4 separate regions of the Homo sapiens genome follow, and regions 2, 3 and 4 are each linked to region 1. The links come from fine-mapping of genetic effects on gene expression. A gene starts in region 1. Each other region holds a variant in brackets. All regions are shown on one strand. Distances are between the middles of the regions.

Region 1 (8,079 bases):
TTACAATAGCACTAAAAATCATGAATACTCAAGTATAAACCTATCAAATTATGTAAAAGATTTGTATATTGAAAACCATAAAACGCTGATGAAAGACACTTTAAAATACTGAAATAGGCTGGGTGTGGTGGCTCACGACTGTAATCCCAGCACTTTGGGAAGCTGAGGCTGGCAGATCACGAGGTCAGGAGTTTGAGACCAGCCCAACCAACATGGTGAAACCCCATCTCGACTAAAAATACAAAAATTATCCGGGCGTGGTAGCACGTGCCTGTAATCCCAGCTACTCAGGAGGCTGAGGCAGGAGAATCACTTGAACCCAGGAAGTGGAGGTTGCAGTGAGCCAAGATTGCACCACTGCACTCCAGCCTGGGTGACAGAGAGAGACTCTGTCTCAAAAAAAACAAAAACAAACAAACAAAAAACTGAAATAAATGGTGAGATATATTACATTCACTGGTAACAGGACTCAATATTGTTAAGATGTCAAAATTGATCTATAGGTTCAATGCAATCCCAATCAAAATCCCAGTAGGAAGTCTGGTAGTAATTAATAGGCTGATTCCAAAATTTATATGGAGGGGCAAAGGAGCTATAAAAACTAAAACATTTGAGGAAAAAAAAAATAAAGCTGGAGGACTCACACTACCCAATTTCAAAACTTACTACAAAGCCACAGTAATTAAGACAGTATAGTCATAAAGAAGGGGCAGACACAGATGCAGAAAAGAAAATTCAGAAATAAATCCACACCCATGAATAACTGATTTTAAACAAGGTGTAAAGATAATACAGTGGATAAAGAACAGTCTTTTTAACAAATAATGCTAGAATAAGTGTATATACATACACAAAAACAAAAACAAAACTCTCCACCCATTGCTTGCACCACATAAAAAAAGTAACTAGAAATGGATCATACCTTAACTGCAATACCTAAATCTTCTACAACAAGAGTTAGCAAACTAAGGCTCATGGGCCAAATCTTTATCTGTTTTTGTAAAAACAGTTTTACTGAACACCTATTCATTTATGTATTTTATGGCTGCTTACATGCTACAACAGTGACTATGACCTGTAAAGCCTAAAATATTTTCTATTTGGCCCTTTACAGAAAAAGTTTGCTCACCTCTTTTCTAGAAGACAGATCTTTGTAACTTTGGGTTTACCAAACATTTCTTAGATTTGACACCAAAAGCACAATTCAAAAAAGAAAAAGACCCAATAAATTGAACTTCCATCAAAATTTTAAATGTCTGCTCTTCAAAAGACATTGCTAAGAAAACAAAAGAACAAGCCAGACTGGGAGAAAATAGAAAATACTTGCAAGTCATATATATATGTATATATATATGACATATATATATATGTATATATATATGACATATATATATGTCGTATATATATATGACATATATATATGTGTATATATATGACATATATATGTATATATGACATATATATGTATATATGACATATATATGTATATATATGACATATATATGTATATATATGACATATATGTGTATATATATGACATATATATGTATATATGACATATATGTATATATATGCCATATATATGTATATATATGCCATATATATGTATATATGCCATATATGTATATATGTCATATATATGTATATATATGTGACATATATATGTATATATATGACATATATATGTGTATATGACATATATATGTATATATATATGACATATATATGTATATATATGACATATATATGTTATATATATGACATATATATGTATATATATACATATATATGTATATATGACATATATATGTATATATTTGACATATATATTTGACATATATATATTTGACATATATATATATTTGACATATATATATATATATTTGACATATATATATATATATATATAATTTTTTTTTTTTTAAAGACAGGGTGTCACTCTGTCTCCCAGGCTGAAGTGCAGCAGCACAATCATGGCTCACTACAGCCACAACCGCCCAGGTAGCTGGGACAAAAGGCGTGTGCCACCACCATGCCTGGCTAATTTTTTGTATTTTTTGTACTTTTTTTTTTTTTTGTAGAGATGGGGTTTCACCATGCTGCCCAGGCTTGTCTCGAACTCCTGGGCTCAAGCAATTTGCCCACCTTGGCCTCCCAAAGTGCTGGGATTACAAGCGTGAGCCACCACACCTGGCCAAAACCATATTTTTGATAAAGGATTTGTATCAAGAATATACAAAGAATTCTCAAGATTCAGTAAGAAAACATACAATCCAGTTTTTCAAAAATGTGCCAAAGGGTTGAATAGACACTTCACTAAAGAAAATATACCTGTAGCAAAGAAGAATATGAAAAAATACACAACATCATTTGCATTGGGAGAATGAAAATGAAAAACACAATGAAATGCACCGTATACCCAAGTCAAAACAAAAAAATAGCAAAAACATCAAAACTGCAGACAATATCAAATTCTGGTGAGGATGCCAATCACCTGGAATTTTCATACATTTTTGGTGGGAATGCAAAGTGGCACCACCAGTTTGCAAACCTGTTTGGCAATTTCCTACTAAGTATATATACATATTTATCATATAACTAGCTATCCCACTCCTAGGAATGTACTCAAGAGAAACAAAATCTTTGATTCACATAAAAACTTCTAGGTGAGGCCGGGCGCAGTGGCTGACGCCTGTAATCCCAGCACTTTGCGGGACAGAGGCAGGCGGATCATGAGGTCAAGAGATCAAGACCATCCTGGCCAACATGGTGAAACCCAGTCTCTACTAAAAATGCAAAAATTAGCTGGGCGTGGTGGCATGTGCCTGTAATCCCAGCTACTAGGGAGGCTGAGGCAGGAGAATCACTTGAACCTGGGAGGCGGAGGTTGCAGTGAGCCAAGATCGGACCACTGCACTCCAGCCTGGCGACAGAGCGAGACTCTGTCTCAAAAACAAAACAAAACAAAACAAAAAAACTTCTAGGTGAATGTTAACAGCAGCTTAACCACTGTCACTAAAAACTGGAACCAACACAAATCTTCCACTAGTAAATGGATGAGTAAACTATGGATTGCCACTCAGCAATTAAAAGGACCAAGCTGCTGAATACACATGACAACATGGATGACTCAAATGATTATGCTAAGTGGAAGAAGCTGGGCTTCTGTGATTTTCTATTCTCATTCATATTCAAGTTGCTTGGGTAACTTGTAATCTTTATCGCTTGCCACACATTATTCTTGAATAAGTATTTAACGGGAGTCTCCTGACGCTTGAGATGAGCCCTCTTCCAGAGAGATCTTGCTGTGCTTCTGCCGAATTCAGATTTTGAGAATCCTTGGCCCAACCAGCTATGTATATTTGAGAAGCTAATCTTCAGGGAAGCAGATATGCACAGGCCTTCCAGGGAAATTGTATTTTCTATTTCTTTTCCTCCCTGCTCCAAGAGCACCAAGGTAGCCACAGTTCATTACAACTGCTGGGAAGAGGGCACTGGGTTCAGCTCTGACTCCTCCTTACCTTTAGCTCCTTGTTATCCGATTCCTGTTGGTAGGGTCTCCTGCAAGCACACTGTCTTGCGTGGGCTCTGTGCTTTAACATGTTTTCTTGGCTCAGCCAGGCCACAGAAACAGCAGACAAGTGTTTGTGGTATCAGCAACTGCTGTCTCAGCACAGGCAGCTTTTTGTTCCAGTATTCCATTTCCCTCCCTGGTTATAGACTTTTATCCAAAAACTGGCCTGGAAGTTCAATGTTTTTTTAGTTCTTCACTTAAAAAAAGCCATTATTTTGTTTCTTCAAGTTTTCATAACCAGCCATCACCAGAAACTGGAAGTCCAAACATGCTCTTATTATTTAAGTAATTGGTGTACATGGTATAAATTCACGTCTTACAGAAAGATGCACAATGAAAAAAAGCAGCCTCTCCATGGCCCCTCCTCCCAATTCCAGTCCCACCCACTCCAAGTAAAGCAAAAAGTGCTTTAGTTGTATTTCTAAACGTTCCTACAACAGATATCTATTATTTTGCAATGGGAAAAATTTTACTTTAAAACATCCCCGGAACTTCTAATCTTCTGATACTTATAACCTCCATATCTCCAAGTAACATCTTTCTCTGTCTCTTGGTTCACAAACTCCTATGTCCAATATCTCCCACCTAAAAATGATGCCCTTTATAATCCCCTTGAAAAAGTGGAGTATACTTACCTCCTTGCCACAATCCCAATATGTTAGTCTTATTATTTCTTAGCTTACTGAGTGCCAACTATGTGCCAGGCAGTGCTTTAGAACCCATGGATACAATAGTGATCAAAACTAACAAAGTCCTTGACTTCACAGTGCTTACATTCTGGAAGAAGAGTGACAATAAACAAACATAAGATTTGTCAGGTAAATGTTATAGAAAAATAGAACAAGGTAAAGGAAACAGGGAATGTAGGGGTGAGGGCAGATTCATGAACTTATTTTGTATTGTATAGTTAAGGAAGGGCACTCAGATAAGGCGATATCTGAGCCAACGCAACAAAGGAAGTGAAAGAGGAAGCCTGTGGATACTTGGAGGAATTGTTATAGGCAGAAGGAAGAAGTGCCAAGGCCCTGACACAGGGGCTTGCTTGCCTGGTGTATTCCAGGAATAGCTTCAGGGGAACAAGTCAGGGGTGAGCAGGAGAAGATGAGCTAGAGAGGCAGGAGTGAGTGGCATGTACATGTCTGTGTGTATGCATACATGCACACTCCGGATGGCTGAGGGTATTTTAGGTCATGGTAAAGACCTTAGCTTTGGCTCTGAGTAAGATGGGAGCCAAGGGGGATTTTCAGCAGAGTAGTACCATGATCTGACGCTGTATTTGTTAACTTATAATGACCCCTATATTCCTTGATCCATCAACTTTAGACCAAAATGTTCATCGAAACATTTTTTGTAACAGTAAAATATTGGGGGAAATTATTTGACCACAAGCATTGTCTAAAGATATTATGGTACAACTACGAAATGGAATACTATGCAAATACAAAACATGATAAATGGAATGTTAGAAATGTGGTTCTAAAATACCACATATAATGTTATCCTGTGAATATATATGCATTGAAGAGTATGGAAAGACATATGCCAACAAATAAGGAGAAAAAAGTCTCTGGGGAGATGGGAAAAGGAGAAATATGAAGGTATTTTTTCCTTTGTGCCTTGTGTTTCCAAAAGTTCCTACAACACATATCTATTATTTTGCAGTGGGGAAAATTTTACTTTAAAACATCCAAGGCCAGGCGTGGTGGCTCACGCCTGTAATCCCAGCACTTTGGGAGGCCGAGGGGGGTGGATCACCTGAGGTCAGGAGTTCAAAACCAGCCTGGCCAATGTGGTGAAACCCTGTCTCTTCTAAAAATACAAAAATTAGCCTGGTGTGGTGGCGGGCGCCTGTAATCCCAGCTACTCAGGAGGCTGAGGATGGAGAATCGCTTGAACCCGGGAGGTGGAGGTTGCAGTAAGCCGAGATCGCGCCACTGCATTCCAGCCTGGGCGACAAAAGTGAAACACCGTCTAAAAAAAAAAAAAAAAATCCAAAAGATTAGAACCATAAACTAATCATTTTCTTTGTTTTAAGCTCAAAACAATTATATACAGCTCCTATGAGAATAATCAATACTGAATATCAACAAACTGACACGCATGTGGCTACCAAGTCTCTAGAATGACCCACTGAAATTCAGTAAAAGCTTAGAGAGCACAGGGTTAACTGCCATGCTGCACTATTTCCCCTCTTACTTGAACAAAGTAACACTTGCTGATGTAACTGTGCTTGCCAAGTTTTTGATAGTAAGTCCATCATGTCTCGTAACTTCAAAGAGTCTCAAAAGTGTCAAGATCCTAAGACAGGAAACTTCTGGTAGCTGACAATGTCTGGTTAATAGGGGGTTTGGTGAAAGCACAGGCAATGGGCACAGTAGAGAAGCAAGCAGCAAACAATGGAGATGTCCAGGACCATCCTGGCACGTGTTCTCCAGCGTTTCTAGGAAAGGTCTCTGGTCTAGTTATCAACCGCTGTGTAACAAACCATCCCAAACTTAGTGAGATGAAACAACAATCATATATCATCTTCTCTCACAATTCTGGGGATTGACTGGACTCAGCTAGGCAGCTCTCCCTCAGGTCTCTCATCCAGCTCTAGCCAGATGGTGGTTAGGGTGGAATCATCTAGAAGGCTTCCTCACTCACATGTTTGGTGGTTGACGTGGCCAGGGCTTTCTCACACAGCATAGAACCTTGGTTCCACGGAGAACCTTCCTGAGAGAAAGCCAGTTAGAAGCTGTATTACCTATTCTAACTAAGCCCTGGAAGTCATACAGCATCACTTCTGTTGCATTCTGTTAGTTAGAAACAAGTTACTAGGGCCAGTTCATACTCAAGATGAGTGAAATTCAGATTTTGCTTCTTTTTTTTTTTTTTTTTTTTTTTTTTTTTTTTTTTTTTTTGCAGATGGAGTCTCACTCTGTCCCAGGTTGCAGTACAGTGGCATCATCTCCGCTCACTGCAAACTCTGCCTCCCAGGTTCAAGCGATTCTGCTGCCCCAGCCTCCTGAGTAGCTGGGATTACAGGTGTGCACCACCACACCCAGCTAATTTTTGTATTTTTAGTAGAGACGGGGTTTTGCCATGCTGGCCAGGCTGGTCTCGAACTCCTGACCTCAGATAAGTGCTCCAAAGTGAGAGCCATCACTATTATTTGCATAATCTCATTTACACAAACTTGATAAAAGCATAGTATCAAAAGGCTGATGTGAACTGCTTCATTAATAGTCTTATTTTCATCATCATTAGGTGCGGTCCACCTATGTCCCTGGCATTAGATGACTCCACAAAGTTTTATTTTATATTGAATTATATTCGCCTACTGCCTTTTTTTCGAGACAAGATCTTCCTCTGCTGCCCAGGCTGGAGTGCAGTGGCGCAATCATGACTCACTGCAGCCTCAACCTCCTGGGTTCAAGTGATCCTCCCATCTCAGCCTCCAGAATAGCTGGGACTACAGGCATGCCCCACCAATGCCTGGCTAATTTTTAAATTTTTTATAGGGATGGGGTCTCACTATGTTGCTCAGGCTGCTTTTGCACTCCTGGGCTCAAGTGATCCTCCTACCTCCCAAAGTACTGAGATTACAGGCATGAGCCACTGCGCCCAGCCTATTGCCTTCTTTTTAATTCATAATTTCAGAGATACTAATGGATGTCTTTCACACAACACTTCAAAAGAAGTTAACACTCTGAAAAAATACCACAATAATTTTCTAAATATTCAGTCATTGACTTAAATATTTATAGATGACTATTTTGTGTCAGAATCTTTTCTGGGTTCTGGGATACTGCAATGAACAAGACAGAAAAAAATCTCGCTTTCATCGAGTCCTCATTCTAGTGGGAGAAGGGAGATAAGATAAACAAGGAAACAAACATGATGAGGTAGGCAGTGCTAAGTGCTAAGAAGTTTAACAGGGAACAGGATGCAGAACAATGGGGGTGGTCTTCTTCTTTAGACAGAATGATCAGAGAGAGGCTATTTTATAAAGATGGGGTGGCCACAGGCGGCCTTTCTGAGGTGTGAGATTTATGCAGAGGTCTGAACAAAGAAAGAGCCAGCCAAATGAAGATGTGGAGGAAGAGCATAAATATTATAATACAAAAAACTGTATCTCACTATTAGTTCTTATTCCAGCACTAGTTCAATGGGACTTTAAAGCAAAAATCCACTTGCTAAGACACAAATCTCTCAAACATATTGGGCAGAATAAAAAGTTCTGCAGTTTTAAAAAGCTGCTGTTATAATGGATGGATTAAATGTTTTTAAATATGAACCACATATAAAAGTACCAGGAGAAAATACAAGTGAAAGTTTATGTAAACTTGAGATGGGTAAAATCCTTCTAAGCATGACCACAAAGTTCAAAAACATACAGCAAAGATTGAAAAGTGTGATTACTTTTATAAGAAGGCAAAAATATTGGACAGCAACAAAATACCCAAAAACACCACAAGAAAATACACTGCCATGAAGATTCCAAGATAAATGGCAAACTGAGA
Region 2 (8,079 bases), 150 kb before region 1:
GATGGTCACATACCTTAAATATTTAGTATATATATGAATACTAAATGTCCATTTTCAGGAGTTAGTTTACCTGCATCTAAAATCAGGAATAGGTCACAGAGTAACTGAGCAAAAAGTGCTGTTAGGTTTGTGCATTTCACCCTTTGCCTGGGATGAGAGGACCTCAATCATCTTGGTACTAATGACAGGAAAAGTGCCCTCCTATCCATGTGTATCGGCTACGTGACTCAAGTCTCCTTATTTCCTTTTCTAGCATAACAAGGGGTTGTTACTGTTGTTTTACATCTGTGTTAATGAGATAAATAAGTTTAAAATAAAAAGATGTGTACCAGGCAGATGGAAAGGTGAACCATGAAGTTTTTGCCATCTGGATCTTCTGTCAAAGACAGATGAAAAATTCTGCCCAGGGTGTATGCTGAAGAACACAAATACTTAATCTGGAGTTCAAGTATGGGCTTCAAGGAGTCTATACACCCCTGAAATTTTGGGACAGATGGAATGTGTCTGAAGTATATTCATTTTTCTGGGAGGAAGCTCCAGAGTTTTCATCAGCTTCTGAAAATAGTGCATGCCCAAAGAGAAGGTTCAAAATCATTGCCTGGGGCCTTTCAGAGGGTCCTTCTAATCATGGTGTTCCCTAATGTTAATCAACACCACAAGCACTATTATTATTAAAAGTAATTGGGTCAGGTGTGGTGGCTCATGCCTATAATCCCAGTACTTTGGAAAGCTGAGGGAGGTGGATTGGTTGAGTCCAGGAATTCCAGACCAGCCTGGCCAACATTAGCTGGGTGTGAAGGCACACATCTATAGTCCCAGCTACTCAGGAGGCTGAGGTGGGAGTATCTTCTGAGCCCAGGAGGTGGAGGCTGCAGTGAGTTGAGATCATGCCTCTGGCACTCCAGCCTGGGCAACAGAGCAGGACCCTGTTTCAATAATGATAATAGTAATCATCATCATCATCATCATGATGTCGCAAGCTGATTTGAAATAACTTATTTTTATATAAGCACTTGGATTTACATAGGCTTGACTGAGGAATTACACTAGTGATTAAGGGTTCAACCTGGACACTGGTAAGGTAGACCAAGCCACATGAACCCCTGCCATTGGCAGGCCAGCAGCCAGTCCATCCTTCCTCCTTTGGACCCGTGGACTGTACTCAAAATCAGTAGAGGCTCTGTCAGAAGGTCCTGGGAAACAAGACCTGTCCATGGTTTCTTTACCTGAAAGTAAAAATGTTTGATGATATAATTTTTAAGTTCCTTTGAATCATTAAAGCTCACTGATTTAGGAGAATGGCTTTTACAATTTTTCAGCTTTAAACTCCCTCCTAAGTTTCTGAAGATCCTCTTGGGCCACTTCATGGATCTGATTTAAATCTAAAGTCCTAGGGGTTTCAAGGAGCACAGTTTGGAATCTACCATCCCGGGACATTCATTATATTAGTCTGTTTTCATGCTGCTGATAAAGACATACCCAAGACTGGGCAATTTACAAAAGAAAGAGATTTAATTGGACTTACAGTCCCACGTGTTGTTCCCTTTTTGCTGACATTACCCTGTCTGAAGTCCTCTACCCAGGGAAGCCACAAGGCACTGTTCTGGGTGGAGGTGGGTGTGGTGTCCACTGCGCCATACCCACCAGGACCTGAGGTGGAAGCTGGCCAGACACTGGTGCTCTGCTGGCATTTGGGCTGCAGATTTGGGGCAGGTAATGGGCATGGAGAGAACAGAGCCAAAAGCAGCACAGGAAGATGTGGCCATTCTGGTCTGAGAGAGGCATGGGAAATGACGGTTGGTGGCAGAAGCGTTTTCTAAACTTAGGCTCGTGAACAGCTTTCAAGTCCAGCTCTTGTCCAGATGTTGTCTTATACCACATGCTCATGGCAACCAGACCACCTCTGATTTTTTTGCAACCAGGTGCCTAACACAGCACATCAGTCAGGATCTGGCAGGAAGCAGGTGACATTCACACAAGGTAACTGACGAAAGCTGCTTTTGTTTTTTGCTTTTGGAGGAAGATGTTGAGAACACCTCCATTTATTAAATTAGCTATAGTAAGTGTAGTTTACATATTAAGGAGAGATTAATGATAGGATTTATACAGATGTGACAGGTTTAGGGAATGACCCCACTCAGCTGTCCCCCTTTCTATGAGACCATGCCTCTGCCTTCTCCCAACTCCATTCCAGCCCAGATGGCCTTCCTTTGTCCTTCTGTGGGGTGGAGATGGGAATGGTTCTCAGTTCCAGCTAGAATCAATTCAACTGGGGAAGCTTCAAAATACGTCAGTGCCTGGGCCCCGCCCCCAGCATTTCTAATTTAATGGGGCTCAGGTGGGGCCTGGGCAGTGGTGCTGTGTAAAAGCTCTCAGTTGATTCCAACACGCCCAGACCAATTCATTGACACTCTCTGGGGTAGAGGGCCTGGGCACTGGTACTTTTTCAAATTTCTCCAGTGCAGCCAGAACCAAGAAGCTCTGTTTTCTTTCCAAATCTATTGTCTGTTGGGGTGATCAGACCCAACACCAGGTCATGGGGGTGACAAAGTCTGGTGGAGTCAAAGGATTGAGAAATAGGTTTGAAAGAGAAAGGTGGGACACCAGGGGGCCATCGCCATTGTGGAGGCTGTGAAGGCCCTGAGCTCTGGGAGCCCATGCTATTTATTGGCAGTCCAACAAAGAAACATGTGGTGAGAATGTGGAGGTCAAAAGGACATGTTGCATTAAGCACATGATTTACAGCTGTGATGGTTTAGCGTTTATATGGAACATGTTTTGCTACTTGAGATAATGGGAGTAGGAGCCTAGGAAGGCTAGAAGCAAGGAGCCAGCAAGGCTAGACACATTCCAGAGGACATTATGTCAGATATGCAAGCCCTGCCTCAGTTTCTCCCAACACTCAGCTTTTTCCTAACATGCCCCCCTTCTCTTTTTTGTAAAAGAGAAAGTATTATTACTAGCTATCATTAGCAAGGTGATTGCAGGCTGTGCAGCCCTTAATTGCCGGTTGGTGATCCAGCTTCATTTTTCTTAGCCCTTATTCAAACCGGAGTCACTCTGGTTTGAGTGCTTCCCACATATCTCCGCTTTCCCTTTTACAGGACCCTTAATCCTAGGGGTTGCAGAAGGATGAAGGTCCATCTTCTGTAACTTCTTCATGCTGAATAGGGGTGATGATACTCCTGCCTAACTATTAGGGTTTCTGTATTCAGGGTAGAGAGGAGCTCAGCCAGAAAGCATTGGTCTGTTAAGCATCAAGACTCCGGTCGGTCCTCGTTCCATCTTCTCATTCAGATTCAGCTGGCTCATGGCT[C/G]GTACTGGGGAACCCAGTCCATGCTTAGGATCCATGGGTCCCTCCAGTCTCCCATTCCATGGTCGTACACGTCTTGAGGGCATCCACATGGTTCGTTCATCTCCTGCAAAAACACAAGCATACCCTCACCCCCACATTAGTAAATCTACTGAAACAGAAGCAAAAACTGTTGTGGCTGTAGCTGGGAGGCCACTGATATTGAGAAACAGGCCCTTCCAACAGAAGGCACCAGGAAAGCAAATCAAGGCTTAAAAGCAATCCTTAAACCTTCAATTTGCACTGTACAGGTGGGTCCACTAGATGCTGTGGCTCATGACAGATCTTCAGATGTTTGGTGAGGACCCACACAGGCACCTGATCATCACCTGGAGAGACACAAACAAATCCTCTTCCTCATATTAAAGAATGGAATTCTTGTGCATCAGCAAAGACCACAGACACCAATGCATCTGCCCTTTAAGTTTAAAGGACCAAAGAGTCCTATTGGAGAAAAAAGAAAAAGCATTTTTATCCTTACCTTCCCCCGCTCTATTCCTTTTATATTTGCCCTTTGAGCCATAGCTAATTTCCATAATTCAGAATGTTCTCGTCTGTCCCTGCAAATCTCTGCTAGTCTTTGCTAGCCTCTACTTTTGTACCTCTTTAGGGCACTGACCTTATATTGCTAGTCTTTGCTTTTGTACCTCTTTAGGGCACTGATTTTATATTGCTAGTCTTCATCTATCCCTATCTGTCCCTGTGGTACCTGTGAGTTCCTGCAAGTCTCTGTCTCTATCTCTATCTCTATTTATCTCTATCTATCTATATCTCTATCTATCTCTATCTCTATTTATCTCTATATTTATCTCCTTTAGCTGTACTTACTTATCTCTACTTAGACTTACTTATCTCTACTTACTTACTTGTCTCTACTTATCTCTACTTACTTATCTCTGCATCTTTCCTGGAAACCTTTTCTATGACCCTGAGTAGAGCTCAGAAATCCACCCTTTAAGCTTCACCAAGAGAAAAACAGGGACACTGGACCCTGCACCAGATTGAAGGGAACAGGAAGTGCTCTCCCCGCCCCAAAGCAGGAAAACAAGAGTTTGGCCCTTGCAAATTTCCACTCCACATCAGCGTCATCCTCAATTTCCTGGAACATTATAGCAATGAATTTGTGGTTATAGCTGATGACCACTGATTTCACTTCAGAAAGTCCAAATATAGCCCAGAACAGTGTCTTAAAACTCTGTTGTGAAGGCTTCATTTTGTTTTGCACCAATGTAGTAGGAGTAGACGTTGAACATTCCCATCATAAAGGCCACAAATACCACAATGAACACATTCCTTGTGTGCTGATTAAATCGTTTTTCTGTAGCAGAGGTAGGTTAACCATGAAACTGAAGCGTGATGACTTCACTTGCCCTATGCAAAGCAGCCCATGATTTATTTTTTCTGGGGACTACTGACAACCAGTCCTGTGTGTCAACCGGTAAGCATCCAACAGCAGGTCTACTGTACAAATAGGTCTTTTGTCAGACACTTGATTAACCCAATATATAGCCTTTCCTGTTGGATTAGTGCTACCAAAGCCTCCAGTTCTTTTCACTGTACTGCTTCCCAGCTTTATGTCAACAACTGAGCAATTCTTTCTCCTAGGGAAGCAGACCACGGAGTTGAAGAACTAATAACTAATTGAATTTCTCCAGTATAATCAGAACCAATCATTCCCATATGCACAGTTACATCTCTAGGTCTTTCTTTTTATTATTATTATACTTTAAGTTCTAGGGTGCATGTGCACAACGTGCAGGTTTGTTACGTATGTATACATGTGCCATGTGGGTGTGCTGCACCCATTAACTCGTCATTTACATTAGGTATATCTCCTAATGCTATCTCTCTCCGCTCCCGCCACCCCACTACAGGCCCCAGTGTGTGATGTTCCACTTCCTGTGTCCAAGTGTTCTCATTGTTCAATTCCCACCTATGAGTGAGAACATGCGTGTTTGGTTTTCTGTCCTTGCGATAGTTTGCTGAGAATGATGGTTTCCAGCTTCATCCATGTCCCTACAAAGGACATAAACTTATCCCTTTTTATGGCTGCATAGTATTCCATGGTGTATATGTGCCACATTTTCTTAATCCAGTCTATCATTGATGGACATTTGGGTTGGTTCCAAGTATTTGCTATTGTGAATAGTGCCACAATAAACATAAGTGTGCATGTGTCTTTACAGCAGCATGATTTATAATCCCTTGGTTATATACCCAGTAATGGGATGGCTGGGTCAAATGGTATTTCTAGCTCTAGATCCTTGAGGAATTGCCACACTGTCTTCCACAATGGTTGAACTAGTTTACAGTCCCACCAACAGTGTAATAAAAGTGTTCCTATTTCTCCACATCCTCTCCAGCACCTGTTGTTTCCTGACTTTTTAATGATCGCCATTCTAACTGGTGTGAGATGGTATCTCATTGTGGTTTGGATTTGCATTTGTCTGATGGCCAGCGATGATGAGCATTTTTTCATGTGTCTGTTGGCTGCGTAAATGTCTTCTTTTGAGAGGTGTCCATTCATATCCTTTGCCCACTTTTTGATGGGGTTGTTTGATTTTTTTCTTGTAAATTTTGTTTAAGTTCTTTGTAGATTCTGGATATTAGCCCTTTGTCAGATGGGTAGATTGTAAAGATTTTCTCCCACTCTGTAGGTTACCTGCTCACTCTGATGGCAGTTTCTTTTGCTGTGCTGAAGCTCTTTAGTTTAATTAGATCCCATTTGTCAATTTTGGCTTTTGTTGCCATTGCTTTTGGTGTTTTAGTCATGAAGTTCTTGCCCATGCCTGTGTCCTGAATGGTATTGTCTAGGTTTTCTTCTAGAGTTTTTATGGTTTTAGGTCTAAAATTTAAGTCTTTAATCCATCCTGAATTAATTTTTGTGTAAGGTGTAAGGAAGGGATCAAGTTTCAGCATTCTACATATGGCTAGCCAGTTTTCCCAGCACCATTTATTAAATAGGGAATCCTTTCCCCATTTCTTGTTTTTGTCAGGTTTGTCAAAGATCAGATTGTTGTAGATGTGTGGCATTATTTCTGAGGGCTCTGTTCTGTTCCATTGGTCCATGTCTCTGTTTTGGTACCAGTACCATGCTGTTTTGGTTACTGTAGCCTTGTAGCATAGTTTGAAGTCAGGTAGCATGATGCCTCCAGCTTTGTTCTTTTGGCTTAGGATTGTCTTGGCAATGTGGGTTCTTTTTTGGTTCCATATGAACTTTAAAGTAGTTTTTTCCAATTCTGTGAAGAAAGTCATTGGTAGCTTGATGGGGATGGCATTGAATCTATAAATTACCTTGGGCAGTATGGCCATTTTCACGATATTGATTCTTCCTATCCATGAGCATGGAATGTTCTTCCATTTGTTTGTGTCGTCTTTTATTTCATTGAGCAGTGGTTTGTAGTTCTCCTTGAAGAGGTCCTTCACATCCCTTGCAAGTTGTATTCCTAGGTATTTTATTTGCTTTGAAGCCATTGTGAATGGGAGTTCACTCAAGATTTGGCTCTCTGTCTGTTACTGGTATATAGGAATGCTTGTGATTTTTGCACATTGATTTTGTATCCTGAGACTTTGCTGAAGTTGCTTATCAACTTAAGGAGATTTTGGGCTGAGACGATGGGGTTTTCTAAATATACAATCTTGTCATCTGCAAACAGGGACAATTTGACTTCCTCTTTTCCTAATTGAATACCCTTTATTTCTTTCTCCTGCCTGATTGCCCTGGCCAGAACTTCCAACACTATGTTGAATAGGAATGGTGATAGAGGGCATCCCTGTCTTGTGCCAGTTTTCAAAGGGAATGCTTCCAGTTTTTGCCCATTCAGTATGATATTGGGTGTGGGTTTGTCATAAATAGCTTTTATTATTTTGAGATACGTCCCATCAATACCTAGTTTATTGAGAGTTTTTAGCATGAAGGTTGTTGAATTTTGTCAAAGGCCTTTTCTGCATCTATTGAGATAATCATGTGGTTTTTGTCTCTGGTTCTGCTTATATGCTGGATTACGTTTATTGATTTGCATATGTTGCACCAGCCTTGAATCCCAGGGATGAAGCCAACTTGATTGTGGTGGATAAGCTTTTTGATGTGCTGCTGGATTCGGTTTGCCAGTATTTTATTGAGGATTTTTGCACTGATGTTCATCAGGGATGTTGGTCTAAAATTCTCTTTTTTTGTTTGTCTCTCTGCCAGACTTTGGTATCAGGATGATGCTGACCTCATAAAATGAGTTAGAGAGGATTCCCACTTTTTCTATTGATTGGAATAGTTTCAGAAGGAATGGTACCAGCTCCTCTTTGTACCTCTGGTAGAATTCGGCTGTGAATCCATCTGGTCCTGGACTTTTTTTGGTTGGTAGGCTATAAACTATTGCCTCAATTTCAGAGCCTGTTATTGGTCTATTCAGGGATTCAACTTCTTCCTGGTTTAGTCTTGGCAGGGTGTATGTGTTGAGGAATTTATTCATTTCTTCTAGATTTTCCAGTTTATTTGCATAGAGGTGTTTATAGTATTCTCTGATGGTAGTTTGTATTTCTGTGGGATAGGTGGTGATATCCCCTTTATCATTTTTTATTGTGCCTATTTGATTCTTCTCTCTTTTCTTCTTTATTAGTCTTGCTAGCAGTCTATCAATTTTGTTGATCTTTTCAAAAAACCAGCTCCTGAATTCATTGATTTTTTTGAAGGGTTTTTTATGTCTCTATCTCCTTCAGTTCTGCTCTAATCT
Region 3 (8,079 bases), 38 kb before region 1:
GTGAAGTAATATTGTGGTTTTGATTTGCATTTCCCTGATGACAACAATGTTGAATGTCTTTTTATGTGCCTACTGGGAGTCTGTATAGCTTCTTTGGAGAAATGTCTCCATATCCTTTGCCCATTTTAAAATTGGGTTTGTCTTCTAATGCTGAGTTATAGGGGTTCTCTATATATTCTGGGTGCTAGACCTTTACTAGATACAGGTTTTGCAAGTATTTTCTTTCTTTCTGTGGAGTTTTTCCTCTTTCTTGATAGTGACCTTTAAAGGACAACAGTTTTTAATTTTTGTTTTTTTTGAGATGGAGTCTTGCTCTTGTCACCCAGACAGGAGTGCAGTGGCATGATCTCAGCTCTCTGCAACCTCCACCTCCTGGGTTCAAGCGATTCTTCTGCCTCAGCCTCCTGAGTAGTTGGGATTACAGGCATCAGCCACCATGCCTGTCTCATTTTGTATTTTTAATAGAGATGGGGTTTCACCATTTAGGCCCAGGCTGGTCTTGAACTCCTGACCTCAGGTGATCCACCTGCCTCAGCCTCCCAAAGTGCTGGGATTACAGGCGAAAAGCCACTGCACCTGGCCAATAGTTTTTAATTTTGATGAAGTCCAATTTATCTATTTTTTTCTTTGGTTGCTTGTGCTTTCAGTGTCTTATCTAAGAAATGATTGCCTAATCCAAGATCACAAAGAACTCCACCTAAGTTTTCTGTTAAGCGTTATAGTTGTTTCCCCTCACATATAGGTCTGCAATCCATTTTGAGTTAATTTTTGTATAGTGTAAAGTGAGGGTTAACCTCATTCTCTTGCACGTGGATATCCAGCTGTCCCGGCAGCACCACGTGTTGAACAGATTATCTTTTCCTATTGAATGGCCTTGACACCCTTGTCAAAAATCAATTGACCATAAATGTATGGGTTTATTTCTGAATTCTCTGTTCTGGTCCATTGATTTATATGTCTCTCCTATGCCAGGACCATTGCTGTAGCTTTGTGTAGTACATTTTGAAATCAGGAGGTGTGAGTTCTACTTTGTTCTTCTTTCTCAAGATTGTTTAGACCATTCTGGGTTCTTTGCATTTCTTATGAATTCAGACTCACCTTGTCAATTTCTGCAAAAAGACTAGACTCTGCTACATATTGTTTTTTCTTTCCTTTTTAGCCTGCAGAATTATTTGATCCCATTCCCTAAGTGCAGGCCAGCCTCTCCAGGGAGAGCAGAGCTAGGACAGGGTCAGAAAGAGAGTCTTGGCTGCTTTGTGCATTCCCAACCTGCACTGGCCCTAGTGAAGGCAGCCCGAGTGGGTGGATGTGCCTGGACACTGCAGGCTTTTTAGGGGCATTAGGTGCTCTCCTTCCTGGCCTCCTGCCACATCTTGGTTGGAGGCTGCCTTCCCTGCCTTCAAAAAAGCCTAAGTGGTGACTAGAAAACAGCAGAGTGTAACTGAATACAGAACTTGGTGCCCACTTCCTGGTTCTATTTTTGTCCCTTTTGAAAGGGAAGGTCATTACCTCTGCCATTGAACCCAGGGGCCCTAGCCCTTGTGGGGTATGGCTGGGAGCACCAGATCCTGGCTGCAGCCCAGCCACCAGTGGTCCTGTGTGCTTGGGCAGTAACAGTGACAAGAGCTCCCTTCCCCCTGGACACTGTGCCTAATACCCTCCTCTTGAAATCTCACACACCCAGTGGATGGGGGGCACTCTTATAGTTATTCTCAGTTTACAGATGACACAACTGAGGCACAGACAGATGCGTTTATTTCTTCAAGGTTCTGTAGCTGAACAGTGGGGAGGGAGGGTTTAAGAGGAGCTGCACCCGCTCTGCAATACTGCCTCTCACGAGGGAGTCCTCTTCATTCATGACAGCATAGGGCCCTCGTCTTCCTGGTAAGGGCTTCCTTCTTGGGTCAGTGCCAGGATTTCTAAGGGTCATGTTTAGCAGGAGCCTATTCTACAAACAGCCAGGAGCAGGGAATGACTCTGTGATGAAGCGGAGACACTACAGCCTCTTGATGCATTTATTTCCTGGTTGGGTTAGAAGCGTAGCTGCCCAAGGGAGCATTTCAGGAGAGGCCTGGCTTCCTAGCGATAGCTGAAAACTTTGTTTCATTTGAATCACTGCTACCCAGAACAATGGGGTGCATTCTCAGAGTCCCCATTATTAAAGCTTTTCCACTGAGCCCCATGAGAACTATTCATGAGAACTATTTCATGGCAGCATAACTGTTTCTCCTCCCTCCCTCTTGCATGTTGGTAGCCTCTTAACTTTAAAACCTGCCTTGCCTTTCCCTAGCTACCTGGAAGGAGACGTCAGACTTCCTGTCCCATGGTGTGTTTCTTACAATTTGTTGTTCAGATTGGTGGTCTCCCAAATATATATAAAAATATAAATGGAGTCTCACTCTGTCACCCAGGCTGGAGTGCAGTGGCACGATCTTGGCTCACTGCAACCTCCACCTCCCAGTTCAAGCAATTCTCCTACCTCAGTCTCCCGAGTAGCTGGGAGTACAGGTGCACACCACCATGCCCAGCTAATTTTTTTGTATTTTTAATAGAGACAGGTTGGCCAGGATGGTATCGATCTCCTGAGCTCGTGATCCACCCACCTCGGCCTCCCAAAGTGCTGGGATTACAGGTGTGAGCCACTGCACCCGGCCCCAAATATTTTGATTATGCACCTCTGCAGTGAAAAATGCAAACACACACATCAGTTCATGTATTACATTATGTTCACTATAAAAACAAACAGAAAATTTAAAAAATATCAAGCTATCCTTTACTCTAGTGGATCTTACCTGGACACTTTTAGCCAGATACAAAGTCACATGGACTCAGTTCTTCCCCTGACCAACTTGTCTCTTATCCCAAAACACCCTTGCAACTCCCTTACGAAGGGGTCAAATTTGATCCAGTATTATGGATTTTATACAAGTTATGTTCTTCTTTCAGGCTTATCCAGAATCAGATCACAGCTAAGGGGACTGCCCAGCTGGCAGATGCGTTACAGAGCAACACTGGCATAACAGAGATTTGGTAAGATCCCAGCGTTTGTCACAGTAATAACACCAGTGACTGTTTACTCACCACCACTGACTGTGCAAGGCACAACGCAGGGTGGTTTCTGTTTATTCCTCCAGCAACCCTGCACAGTAATGGTATTACCTCTGTTTTACAGAGGTAGACAGAGGCCCAGACCAGTGAAATAAGGTTGCCCAAGGTCACTACGAGAGAAGCTAGAATTCAGCCCAGAATGCCTGATTCCATATTCTGTGCTCTCCTGCCCTGGGCCCCCGCCCTCATCTACCTTCATTGGGTGGGATGGGGGAAGTGGCCAGTGAAATGATTTCCTAGTGGAAGTAAATCCCCCTGGGACTCAGCAATTGAGAGATGACTGTGTTGGCCAGGAGTTTGGAGCTCATTCTTCCCCTTTTCTGGGTTCCGTAAGACATTTCCAGGCTGACTTGAACTGACCTGTGCTCTTTGTCTACTTCTTTTTTCTGCTTTGAGAACTTCCTTATGCTAATAGAAGAAAAAAAGTTTGCTTTACTGTGACATTGAGCGCCATGCCACTTCTTTCTTGCCTCCCATAAGGCACAGACACTCCCCACTCAGCAGCTCCCTTAACAACTTAATTGCCTGGGTGACGTGGGACTGGGTGGATGCTGGGAGAGGGGCCTTATTAACTATGTCCTCCTTTCATGACTGGGGAGAATTTCATAGCCAATTAAAAAAAAACAAAAAACAGCTCCTTGGCCAACACAGGCTCCTCATACAGTGTTTTTTAAACTTTGCTTTAGAACTTGTTTGGAACTTGTCATAAAATCGATCAGTTTGGTGAATTGCAACCAACAATATTTAAAAAGAAAACAGAACAGAACAAAATATCAGGATGCAATGTGCATGGTATGAAAGTATCATTTCATTCATCTTAGTTCATGCTTGCATGTGAGTGGGTGTGTGTTTGCATAAGTGTTGGTTCACAACATAAAATGTAATTCTTATTTAGGGTTGTAGACAAAAGGTTTTTTTTTA[A/TA]AAAAAACACTGTTGGCTAGGCATGGTGGCTCATGCCTGTAATACCAGCACTTTGGGAGGCCAAGATGGGCAGATCTCTTGAGCACAGGAGTTTGAGACCAGCCTGGGCAACATGCGAAACCCCGTCACTACAAAAATTAGCCCGACATGGTGCTATGTGCCTGTAGTCCCAGCTACTCAGGAAGCTGATGTGGGAGGATGGATGCATGGGAGATCAAGGCTGCAGTGAGCCAGGATCATGCCACTGCAATCCAGCCTGGGTGCCAGAGACCCTGTCTCAAAAAACAAAAAAGAAAAAAAGAAAAACACCATCATAGAGAATAGAGCCCAGATCTAAACAGACACCTGTGGCCTGTGTGCCTGCGAAGCCCAGCCTGCCCAGCAGCCTGGGAAGCACTGGAGGGCACTGGAACTGTTTGCATGGGTGTTTGCCCTCAGGCCACTCCGTTTCTGCTGATTCTTAAGTTTTGAGGACAGCAGGCAGAGGGGGAGAGGAAGGAGACTGCCAGACTACAGAACAGTTTGCAGAGCACAGTTGGCTTCCACTTTTCTCTGTAGCTGGTCAGGCGGGTAGTAAAGACCTACAGTTGCTTTAATTCTGTCAAGTTTCAAAATCTGCATTGCTTCCCTCTTGAGGGTCACCATTCCTACACAAGGAACCATTTTAGTAGGGCCAGGAGACTTCAGCTTCAAGGCCTGCACTTGTGTCAGGGTGGAGAGGGGAACTGGCCACCAATTCAGAGAGGGCAGGACAGGCGGCATGGGTGCTGGTCTTGGGAGTGTCTTCACTTAGGTCCCTGGCTTGTTCTGGGAGCCTCCAGAGCATGCTCCTCTGTGTGTGACTTCATGGGACTGGGCTCTGAGAAGGCTGTGGCTTTGTTGGCCCTGCCAGGGACTGCCACACCAGGCCACAGGGTTGTGGTTGAGCTGGCCGGGGAGCCACGTTCAGGGAGCAGCTCTGCTTGGAGCCAACACTTACAGAGTAAGCCTTCTCCTTGGACTTGTTAACTGTACTGACACTTATTTCTACCTCATTCCTTTCTGAAAATAACTTGGAAGTCTGAAGTCCCTTGATGAGTTCTGTCTTTAAGAACAGAAATTAGAGGTGAACAATGAACACTGTAAATTACAGAAATGTATCCCACTCCAGTATAACAGCTTTCTGTGAGGCTATCTCCTCCAGACTGTGGCTCTGGGAGGGTGGGGCCTGAGTCAAGGTCCTAGGGACTAGTGCTGTGTCTTCATTTATTCCTTGAATAACGAAACGCTTGAGCATCAGGGACTGTGCTAGCACCAAAAATCCAGTGGTGAACAACATGGCTTCATGGGTTCACTGTCTAGAAAGGGAGAAGCACATTAAAGAAAAAATCATTTGCGTAATTATTTAATTACAACTGTGATGGGTACTATCACAAAGGGGAAGGCCAAGAGGGAACCTGATTTAGATGAGGTTGCAGGGAAGGCCTCTCTGAGGAAGCAGCACTTACACTAAGCCATGAAGGATGAATAGGAGCTAGTCAGCTGAGGTGAGTATTCTGCGTAGGGAACAGCATGTGCAAAGGGTCTGGGGCAGGAGGGAGTGTGGTGTCCTGGAAGAACTGCCAGAAGCTGCTGTGCCCCAGGGTTCAGACAGTGTGGAAGAGGGGACTACAGGAGGCTGAGGAGATAGGCAGGGACTGGACCATAAAAGATCTGTGGGTCATGATGTGCATTTTGGTCTTTATCCTAAAAGTGATGGAAAGTCAGTGAACAGTTTGAAGCAGGAGAGGCATGTGATCAGATCTGCAATGCAAAAAGACCAATTCTTGGCTCTTCTAGGAAACTGAATTGGAGAAGGCCAGAGTACGTGGAAATGACCTGTCAGTAGGACATTGTACTGATGCAGGGAAGAGATGATGGGTGCTCAGACCAAGATGGCCGGCCAAAGACATAGAGGTTCCAGGGAGGCATTCTAGATTCTTAGGAATTAGGGGAGAACTTTGTGATACAAGGAACATGGGGATGAGAAGGAAGGTGTCCAGGTTGACCCCCAGGTTACTAACCTGCTCAGCAGGATGAGAGTGGTCCATTCACTAAGCCAGGGGACCCTAGGAGGTGTGGCTACTTTGAGGTGTGGGGGAGAGGTCCAAGTGAGGATGCCAAGCAGGTAACTGCCTCCACGGACATACAAACAAGGCCGTGGCATTGATGAGATCGGGTGGGGAAAAGGGCTTAGCCCCAAACCTGGAGGAAATCTCAGATGTAGAGGTCACATGGAGGAGAATATAGGAAAGGAAATTGAAGTAGAGTGCTCAGATGCAGGAGAAAAATCAGCGCATATAACCAAGCCAAGGGGAGGGAGTGCCTCAAGAAGGAGGGAGAGGAGAGGTCAGGACAGCCAAAATCCTGAGGGCCAAGAAAGACAAGACCTGGAAAATGTCATTAAATTCAGGCTTATGGAGGCTACAGGTGACCTTAGTGAGACCCAGTGAACAGAGGGATGGCAGCTGGAGAGGATCCATGCTAATATGAAGGAACTATCTGCAAAGGGTATGTTCCTTAATTTCAGGGATACATGTGTATTGTGTGATACACGAGTGTGTGCTATGAACACACCTTGGGAAGGAGTGTGCGAGGATCCTTAACATTTTACCTGTGTACTTTTGTCTTCCTCCTTTTCAACAGCCTAAATGGAAACCTGATAAAACCAGAGGAGGCCAAAGTCTATGAAGATGAGAAGCGGATTATCTGTTTCTGAGAGGATGCTTTCCTGTTCATGGGGTTTTTGCCCTGGAGCCTCAGCAGCAAATGCCACTCTGGGCAGTCTTTTGTGTCAGTGTCTTAAAGGGGCCTGCGCAGGCGGGACTATCAGGAGTCCACTGCCTCCATGATGCAAGCCAGCTTCCTGTGCAGAAGGTCTGGTCGGCAAACTCCCTAAGTACCCGCTACAATTCTGCAGAAAAAGAATGTGTCTTGCGAGCTGTTGTAGTTACAGTAAATACACTGTGAAGAGACTTTATTGCCTATTATAATTATTTTTATCTGAAGCTAGAGGAATAAAGCTGTGAGCAAACAGAGGAGGCCAGCCTCACCTCATTCCAACACCTGCCATAGGGACCAACGGGAGCGAGTTGGTCACCGCTCTTTTCATTGAAGAGTTGAGGATGTGGCACAAAGTTGGTGCCAAGCTTCTTGAATAAAACGTGTTTGATGGATTAGTATTATACCTGAAATATTTTCTTCCTTCTCAGCACTTTCCCATGTATTGATACTGGTCCCACTTCACAGCTGGAGACACCGGAGTATGTGCAGTGTGGGATTTGACTCCTCCAAGGTTTTGTGGAAAGTTAATGTCAAGGAAAGGATGCACCACGGGCTTTTAATTTTAATCCTGGAGTCTCACTGTCTGCTGGCAAAGATAGAGAATGCCCTCAGCTCTTAGCTGGTCTAAGAATGACGATGCCTTCAAAATGCTGCTTCCACTCAGGGCTTCTCCTCTGCTAGGCTACCCTCCTCTAGAAGGCTGAGTACCATGGGCTACAGTGTCTGGCCTTGGGAAGAAGTGATTCTGTCCCTCCAAAGAAATAGGGCATGGCTTGCCCCTGTGGCCCTGGCATCCAAATGGCTGCTTTTGTCTCCCTTACCTCGTGAAGAGGGGAAGTCTCTTCCTGCCTCCCAAGCAGCTGAAGGGTGACTAAACGGGCGCCAAGACTCAGGGGATCGGCTGGGAACTGGGCCAGCAGAGCATGTTGGACACCCCCCACCATGGTGGGCTTGTGGTGGCTGCTCCATGAGGGTGGGGGTGATACTACTAGATCACTTGTCCTCTTGCCAGCTCATTTGTTAATAAAATACTGAAAACACTCTTACGGGTTGAGTCTGGAGTTTTTGAAGGGACTTGGCTTGGTAAGCACTCATTGACTCCTGAGCCCCATCCTGATTCACTCCACAGTGGGGAAGGGGCTCTGGGGTGATGTGCTATGAGGAGAGCCTGATGAAGGCCAGGGGTGTCACCAGTTTGATCCTTCACAGGCCTCTCTGCCTACCAAGGGACAGGAAGCGGCTGTGGCA
Region 4 (8,079 bases), 140 kb after region 1:
ACAGCAGTGATTGTGCCTGGGCTTTCTCTCAAAGACATGTAATGTGATTTCTAGCAGTGGCTTCTGATTGAACTTTTATTATTTTTAATAATTCTCACAAATAATTATAATGTGGTATACTTATTTCATTCTCTTGCCTATTAGTGGCTAGAACTTCCAGAAATAGTGATCCTGATTAATAAGAATGCCTCAACTATTAGGCAAAAACCACAATTACTTTTGTACCAACCTAATATTTAATCGTATTTTGAAGAGGCTAAGCTTAGGCCTTTATCCACAGTAGTTTCCTCATAGGAAACTTTCATCATATACTTTCTTAATCAGGAATCTGATAATGGCTGCACAATTAGCCACCAGGCAAGCAGGAAGGTACAGACCTTCTAAGTGATCTCCTAATACTCAGAACTTAATCCAATGCCAGAGTCCACTTTTAAAAGTCAGCTCCATTGAGGAGAATGCTCCCTTAATATAAAACCATCAATCCTGTAGCTGTTTAGAAAGCCAGATCTTCATTCAGCTGTGAACATTAATGATGGTGTGCACCTCAATAAAGAACACTGTCAGGCTGAATTAAAAGACTATAAACTGGGTGTACAAAGGAGAATGAGACAGTAGCAGAGTGCTGGCACATAGGAGTCAAGCAGTAAATATTGTTGATGCTCATCTTCTGCCCACACCCACCCATGATAAAAGAACAAATGATGATCCACCGAGTCTTAGCAGCAAAACACTTCCTGTGCTATATAGAGAAGGTAAAAAACACCAAGCCCACGACAACTGCCTAGGTACAACTCATCTTCCTTTAGAGTGATGCTAATCAAGTTCATCTGGCCACTTTGTTCTCCACATTAGCATCTAATAGATGAAGCCTAGAAGAAAAAAGCCATTTTTCTTAGGATTCTTATAATCACAAAGTGTCTGTAGTCATAGGGATCAGGAATGGTTAATTAATACTTGCATTATCTTGCTTCCTTTTCTCCCATTATTTATATTTCCCAATGGAGTAAAACAGGGTTCAGCTTGGAAAACAAAGAAGCAATGGTTCTTAAAATACTGTTAACTCTGTCTGTGGAATGTACTCACAGCACAATCACAAGGGCAAAGTTATAAATGATGTGGCTTTGTTAGTGAGGCTTGCTTTATTTTTGTGAATGCATTGAATTTAATGAAACAAGGAACAACAACAGGAATGTATTATGTTTTCTAGTTTTCTTATTGACATGCTTTCTGTTGGGTCTAAGTATAGTTCTTTCCTAACTAGCACTAATTTTCAGTATTCTAAGTCACCATGCATGAAATCCTATGTTCTGTTCCTCTGTTATGAAAATGGTTTTCTTAAGTCTAGGTTTTTTGAAACTCCAGGTTTCAGTTGATTTAATGACTTGGTAGTCTTGCAATGTGGCTCTACATTCAAAACACCCACAGAATCTGACCACTTCTTACTACCTTCAACACTGCCCAGCCCGAGCCAGCATTATCTCTTCCCTAGATCACTGCATTGGCTCTGACCTGCCTCCACCCTTGCCACATTAGAGTTCATCTCAAAATAGCATTCAGAGTGGTTCTTTAAACACAAAAACAAGAAAAGGCCATTCCTCTGCTCAGAGCCCTGCCAGGGCGCTCCATTTCACTCAGAGTCTTCACAGTGACATGGGGGCCTGCCATGACTGGGTCCTCACCATGCTGTGATCACATCTCTATTGCTGTCTCTTCCTCATTCACAGTTCTGGCCATGTTACCCTCTTGCCGTTCTTTCAACATGCTGGGCACTGCCTCTTCCCTCTGTCTGTAATGCTCTTCCCTATATGTGGACACAGTTACTTCCCTCATTTCCTTCCATTTTTGTGTTTGAATGCCACCTTCTTAATGAGACCTCTCTTGGCCACTTTATTTAAAAGTGTACCCTGTCTACCCCAACTCCAGCATTCCTGGTACCCTTTACTATGCTGTAAGTTTTCTTTCTTCCATAGAGTGTATCACTTGCTAACATACCATATGATTTTCTTAAATGTGTCCTGTTTCTTGTCTGCCTGCTCCAGTAGAACGTAAACTCCAGGAAGGCAGAGAGCTTTGTTCACTGATGTACCCCAAACACAAAACAGAATCTGGCATGTAGTGAGCACTCAGGAAATACTGAAATATTTGTTGAGTGAATGAATGCATCACCAGTGTCTAGAGCTATTCCTGGCACACAGTAGGCTCTTAATACTGGTCAAATGTCTCTCCCTGGAGGACGAACAGGGCTAAGTGTCAGAGACCCAGGCCGCATAGCATAGTGATTCAGAAGACCACAGGCTCTGCCTCAGCTGGAGTGGGCTGTGTCCTACTCGTATGACCTAGGCTGTTTACTTAACTTCTCTGAACCTCAGTTTTCTCATCTGCAAATTGGGAGTGATGAGTACCTCCCTTACAAGGTGGTTATGAGAATTAAATGTGATCATTTGGATAGTAAGTCTGGTAAATGCTCAATAAATTTGAGCCATTATTATTATTATTATTATTATGACATCTTATTCTTTTACCTCTTTTTTCAGGGAAATAACTTCCATGTCTGTTCTTACCCATCAGGATTATTGGGAGGAAAAATATACAACACCGTAAATGAAAAACATTTTATAAACCTTATACCACTCTCCGGATGCTGGGGATCAGTTGCACATATAAGAGGTGCCCCATGGACACCATTGACTCATTAATCTGGGAAGTCTACAGGTAGTGGGAAACAGTCTTAAGTGCTGACAAAGAAAATTACACTGGTTCTAATCAATAGCTAGGATCCCTTCTGAGATACCCCTTCCCCGTGGCATCATGGAGGTGGGAGGAGGGCCAGGCCATATTTCAAAGTCCCCCTCCTTCTCTTCCCTCTTCCTCCCTAGGCTGCCAGAACCTTTCCTTGTAGTGCAAGAACAACCACACTGCTGGAAGTGAAATTTGCAATCTGCTCTATCAGATGATTTCTGCGCATGGGCTGTTACTATGTTCAAAGCATTAAACTGCCTGAAAGTGGATTATTTACAGAGCTTCTCTCTTCCCAGAGCTACGGATAGGTGGCAATTCAGCCTCTTCACCCTAATGCACACTTTCTCACTTTCCACCGAGACTCTTTGTTTGCTGACAGCATCTGGCTATCCTGAGTACTTGCCTTAGCTGGCACAGTTCTCTCCAATCCCTAGAAGAAACAGCCTTCACCTACACTCCAGGGATGAAATAACATTTCAGCTCAAAGCTAGCAACCTTTCTCTGAAATGGTGTCACACCCAGACAGAAAAATAAATGTGCTGTTTCTTCTTAGATGATGAGAAGTCAGGCTTTCAGGCAGACTTTTGACACAGGGAGGATCAAGGTTTGACTGCCTTTGAGTAATCCTTGCAGAAAAAACAGCACCTAATTGGACAAAGGAAGAAAGGAACCAGCTGCTACTGTCAAGATTATTTAAACACCCATCCACAGTCAAAAACACTGCATTGTTTCATTACAAGTGAAATTTGATTGCCACTACATTTCCTGCTGGCCTCCCCTCTATGCAAATTGGGGAGAAGAAAGAAATTCATAAGGCACCAGAACCCATTTGGCTTCTAAATGTACTGTTTGC[A/G]TATAGACATCAGCAGCCTGAATAAATCCTAGCGAGGAATGTCAAACTGACAACACTGGCTACTTTTCTATTGTTCTCCCTGAAAACATCGTTTTTAACACGTTCACAAAGGCAAGCTGGATTCTGTTTTATCAGTGTTTTAGTAAAAGACAAGTGGCGTGGTGGTTCAGTTGTGGGTATCGGACATTAATGAAAACCATTCTGGGAGAGTTCACTTTATAAAAGATTAAAATAATTCATCAACTTGCAAAACAATTGTTCTAACCCTCTCTGCTGACAGTCAATGTTTGTGCTGGGGGCTGAGTATTATATAATAATTTGTACAGCAGTTCATAGTTCCTAAAACATTTCTGCCTTGGGTCCGTCAGAGGACACTCCCAAGGATGCCATGAGTGAGGCAAGGGCAGTTTCCTTATCCTCATCCCGCAGATGAGAAAGCCAGATCTTAGAAAGATGGGGACTTTTTATTGTCACGGAACATGTCCAACCCCTGGGCATTCACCTTGCAATGCAGATTCCTCCTCATCCTTCGAAGCCCGAATACAACATCTCCCCTTTTCTGTAGTATTTCCTGTTCCCTCCACACCCCCTGCCACCAGCACCACTGCAGTTAATTCATTTATCCAGGATCAGTGAAAAACCACTCTGTCATGGGAGGAGATGCAGCAATGTCAAGGTCATCGTAAGTCCCATGACAAGGTGACAATCTCTCCTCAAGGGAAGCAAAGATGGAGACGGTGCCCTTGTGTAACACAAACCCAACTGGGCTTTCTCTGTGAGCTCAAACTGGGAAACTTAAGATGGAGAAGAGCTAGCTGGAGTTCTTCTGCGTGGGATCCTGCCTCTGTGACAGCCCCTGTATCTGCTGACAGTATCTCTTCTGCTTCTTCTCCACGACGTGAGACCCTCGAGAACAGGGACCATTTCTCTGCCAGGGACAGTGAAAGCCTGGCGCAGGACGATGCCCCATCATTGCTTCCTGAATGCACCTCTAGCGTAGTGATCCTGACAGGTCACCAGAAAACAGGGCCAGAGCTCACAGCTCTAACTCCTGACTTGGCATAATTTCTTCCCTGGGCTGCCTTATGGTGATGGCAGCAACAGCCCATCTAGAGTGGCTGCTGCCAAGACACTGGCTGTGGTGGGAAAGTGTGGCTGGGCTCCCGCTCTAGGGAGCAGGCAGGAGCCCTGCTTTCCTCCGGTGCTGCTGCAGCTGCCCTGGTGCAGCTCCAGACTGGGTGTCTCTGTGCCTTGGGGGCCCAGGAAGGTGCCCCTGCCCCCAACAGGCTCGGAAGTGCCTGCTCCCACTGCCTGGCCTCTCCCTGCTCCCAGTGCCTGCTCTGATCATACAGTAAGGTTGGGGCCAAGCCCGGGTACTGACACAGTCCAGCCAGGTGGACGCATGCTTGGGACAGTACTGATACGCCAGCCCCCTGCTCCCTCAGCCCCCTCTGAACTTTGGGTGCCAACAAGCATGGGAGGGAAGCTGAGCGGGGGGATGAGGGCAGCTCAGCACTGGCCTGCAGGCTCACCTTGGGACAAATAGCCTGGGTGCCATGAACAGCAGGGGGAGGCAGACAGGCTCCTGGGCAGAAGGGGTTGGGTCCCCGGTGAAGCCTCACCTTCAGCCTGGGAAAGTCCTAAAGCCTGGGGACCAGGCTGCCAGTCCTGCTGACCAGAGGGGGAACTCGGGGTGCTTTACCCTGGGCCCACCTATGGCTGCCCATGGACCAATCAGCATGCACTACCCCCCTGCCGAAGACCATAAAAACCCCCGACTCAGCCAGAGCAGAGTAGACTTCTGGATGACCAGCTGCAGAGAAGAGCTAGCCTCTCCAGGGTCTCCTCTCTGCTGAGAGCAGCAGACATCCAGACAACCAGCTGCAGAGAGGAGCTAGGGCCTGCTCTCAGCAGACAGAAACTACCCTCTCTGCTGAGAGCTGAACACTCATTGGGACAACTTGCCTGTGGAGAGGAGCCACCCAGTCCAAGCCTTTGCTGAGAGCTGCAGAGGTGATGGGATGACCTGCTTGCAGAGAGGAGCTACCCACTGCTGGTTTCCTCTCAGCTGTTCTACTACTTGATAAAGCTCCTCTTCAGCTTGCTCACTCTCCACTTGTCTGCATGCCTCATTCTTCCTGGATGCAGGACAATAACTCAGGCAAAGGCGCCACCGGCCACAGAGGTTTCTGGCTAGAAAAGCAACAACCCTAATAATAGTAACTATACTGTGACACATTATTCTGCAACACCCTCCTCCCACATTAAAAAAAAGAGGAGGGGGCAATAAAATTAATAATAGCTAATACACAAGAGGGCTTACTACATGTCAGCCCCCACCCTCGGTTGCACACGCATATCCCCTTAAAAGCCCCTCTGAGCTAGGCACTAATGTTCCCTTGTTCTATGGATGAGAAAACTCACCTAAAGATGCTTAGGCCATGCAGCTAGTATACAGATGGTAATTCAAACCTAAGCCCTTAACCTCACAGAAATTTAACAAAGTCAAAACAACCCAAAAGCTAAAAATTGCTTATCTAACTATCCAGAGATGTTTTCCTGCCCATAAGTCCCTGCTATGGACTCTATATGAGATGGTACAGAGCTACTCAAAGCTGGTCAGGAAACCGTCACCGGTCTATGATGGGATAAGAACAGAAATTGAGAGTAAACATTTAAAAACGTTTATGGCAACTTGATATTGCTGCTGTATCCAAGTGTGTGATCAGTGGACTTATCTTGTTCAGCAGGAGAGTGACTGTTTGGATGGTATGAACTTGAATGATGAACTGCCAGTAGTCTGGGCTGTGTGCTAGTATTATTCTGCAATAGATTGAAAAATTTCAGAAATTGATTCTTTACCAGTTTGAGAAACACTAACACTATAGTTCTATTTCAGTTACCTTGGGAGTAGAGGATGGAAAAAGTAGTCCGGCAATAGCTAGGAGAGTTTTGTCTAGTCTCTTTGCTACTGCCTAGCTGGGTGACCTCAGACAACTTCCCTTCTGATAATTGTAGAGTGAAGGGCTTACACTAGATTCTAAGTCCCTTCTGTGCTGTGGCACAATGAGCATATTTGTTACCAGAGTAAATCATTTCTTAATCTCTGCTTCCTCTGATATTGTTTGGCTTTGTGTCCCTACCCAAATCTCACCTTGAATTGTAATAATCCCCACATGTCAAGGGCAGGATCAGGTGGAGATACTTGAATCACGAGGGGCGGTTTTTCCCATGCTGTTCTCCTGATAGTGTTTATCACGAGATCTGGTGGTTTTATAAGGGGCTTCCCCCGCACTCGGTATTCATTCTCTCTCCTTCTGCCCTTTGAAGAGATACCTTCCGTCATGACTGTAAGTTTCCTGAGGCCTCCCCAACCATGAAGAACTGTGAATCAATTAAAACCCTTTCTTTCTTTATGGCAGCATGAGAACGAACTAATACATCCTCTATATAACAAAAATATTTTCAGCAGTAATCATGTAATAATCAGAAATAAGCACAATCTTCTTGATCTTTACTCTGAAAAACAAGTAATTTTAAAAGAATAATTTCCTTTTAAAAGATCACTCAAATATGCTCAAATAAATACCATACCTCACAGTTCATGCTCTGTTAGCCAATTTAAATTTAAATATAATAGAAATAAAATTTCCCAAAGTCACACAGAATTGAAGTAACTCAAATTCCATGTTTTTGTCTTTGCAGCCACTAAATCTGTGTTGCTGAGTCTGCTGTTTGCATGCAGGAATGTGAAGGACTGCTCAAGTTGGAGATACAAATTGAAGCCAGCCCCAGTTCAAAACTGTTACAAATGGAGTCTGTAGGCATGAGGGGCTGACTATATAACTCAGAGTTCTCCAGTACTTTACTTTAATAAAGAACACAATCTTTATTAAAGGATAAGTAATAAAAATGTGTTGATGTGCAACTTATGGATCTATTATTAAAACTCAACAGTCATTGCAGCAATGTTTAGAACTTAAGCAAACAAAAGTTTTGTGAGGGGGCAATTTTATCAATGACATTGTTTAGAAATGTTGGTAGATGGTGATCATAAAAAGCAGATCAATGTTTTATTTCACTTGGGTTTTTAAAAATTATTTTTAAAAAATTCTATACTGACAATGAACCCTCTTAATTCCTGAATATAGGGAAGCCCCCCCGCCCATGCCCAAACCCACTCTTGGTATGCTGCTGCTTCCAGTTATAATAGTTGGTATACTTTAGGGATTGAAAAGGACTTGGTTTTAAAGAGTTTCAACGGCAATGCACTTGCTCTTTTGGTTCAATAAGTTTAATTCTGGGCCAAGGGGAAAAAAATCCAATCAATATTAATAATAGCTAAAACTTACTGTGCGCATACTTTGTGCTGGGCTCAGTGCCCAATGCTTTGTGTATATTACTTCTTTCTTTCTTCCAAATGTACCTCTAGGAGATAAGTCCTATTCTTATCTCCAGTTTACAGACAGGGGAACTGAAGCTTAGAG

Evidence for each region. PIP is the estimated chance that this variant, and not a neighbour inherited with it, causes the effect.
Region 2: its variant is fine-mapped to the expression of LINC01176 in sun-exposed skin (GTEx, PIP 0.96).
Region 3: its variant is fine-mapped to the expression of LINC01176 in gastroesophageal junction (GTEx, PIP 0.97).
Region 4: its variant is fine-mapped to the expression of LINC01176 in ileum (GTEx, PIP above 0.99).

The regions. Positions count from the first base shown.
Region 1 is chr7:30,386,478-30,394,556 of GRCh38, reverse strand. LINC01176 (long intergenic non-protein coding RNA 1176) reads right to left here and starts at 3,672. Exons shown (of 3, transcript NR_108081.1): 1 at 3,522-3,672. RefSeq lists an enhancer at 2,872-3,490.
Region 2 is chr7:30,540,613-30,548,691 of GRCh38, reverse strand. GARS1-DT (GARS1 divergent transcript) reads left to right here. Exons shown (of 7, transcript NR_038889.1): 7 at 1-335. It also overlaps the pseudogene TRPC6P10. Among named protein-coding and RNA genes, the nearest start is that of GARS1-DT, 33 kb to the left of the region's middle. RefSeq lists an enhancer at 1-3. The variant C/G (reference allele first, on the strand shown) is at 3,317.
Region 3 is chr7:30,424,325-30,432,403 of GRCh38, reverse strand. NOD1 (nucleotide binding oligomerization domain containing 1) reads left to right here. Exons shown (of 14, transcript NM_006092.4): 13 at 2,947-3,030; 14 at 6,694-7,877. The coding sequence ends at 6,766. Among named protein-coding and RNA genes, the nearest start is that of LINC01176, 37 kb to the right of the region's middle. The variant A/TA (reference allele first, on the strand shown) is at 4,030.
Region 4 is chr7:30,243,192-30,251,270 of GRCh38, reverse strand. The region is part of intron 2 of LOC124901607 (a long non-coding RNA gene); the gene reads right to left. It overlaps LOC105375218 (a long non-coding RNA gene), which reads left to right. Exons shown (of 4, transcript NR_136267.1): 4 at 2,877-3,844. Among named protein-coding and RNA genes, the nearest start is that of ZNRF2, 37 kb to the left of the region's middle. The variant A/G (reference allele first, on the strand shown) is at 3,593.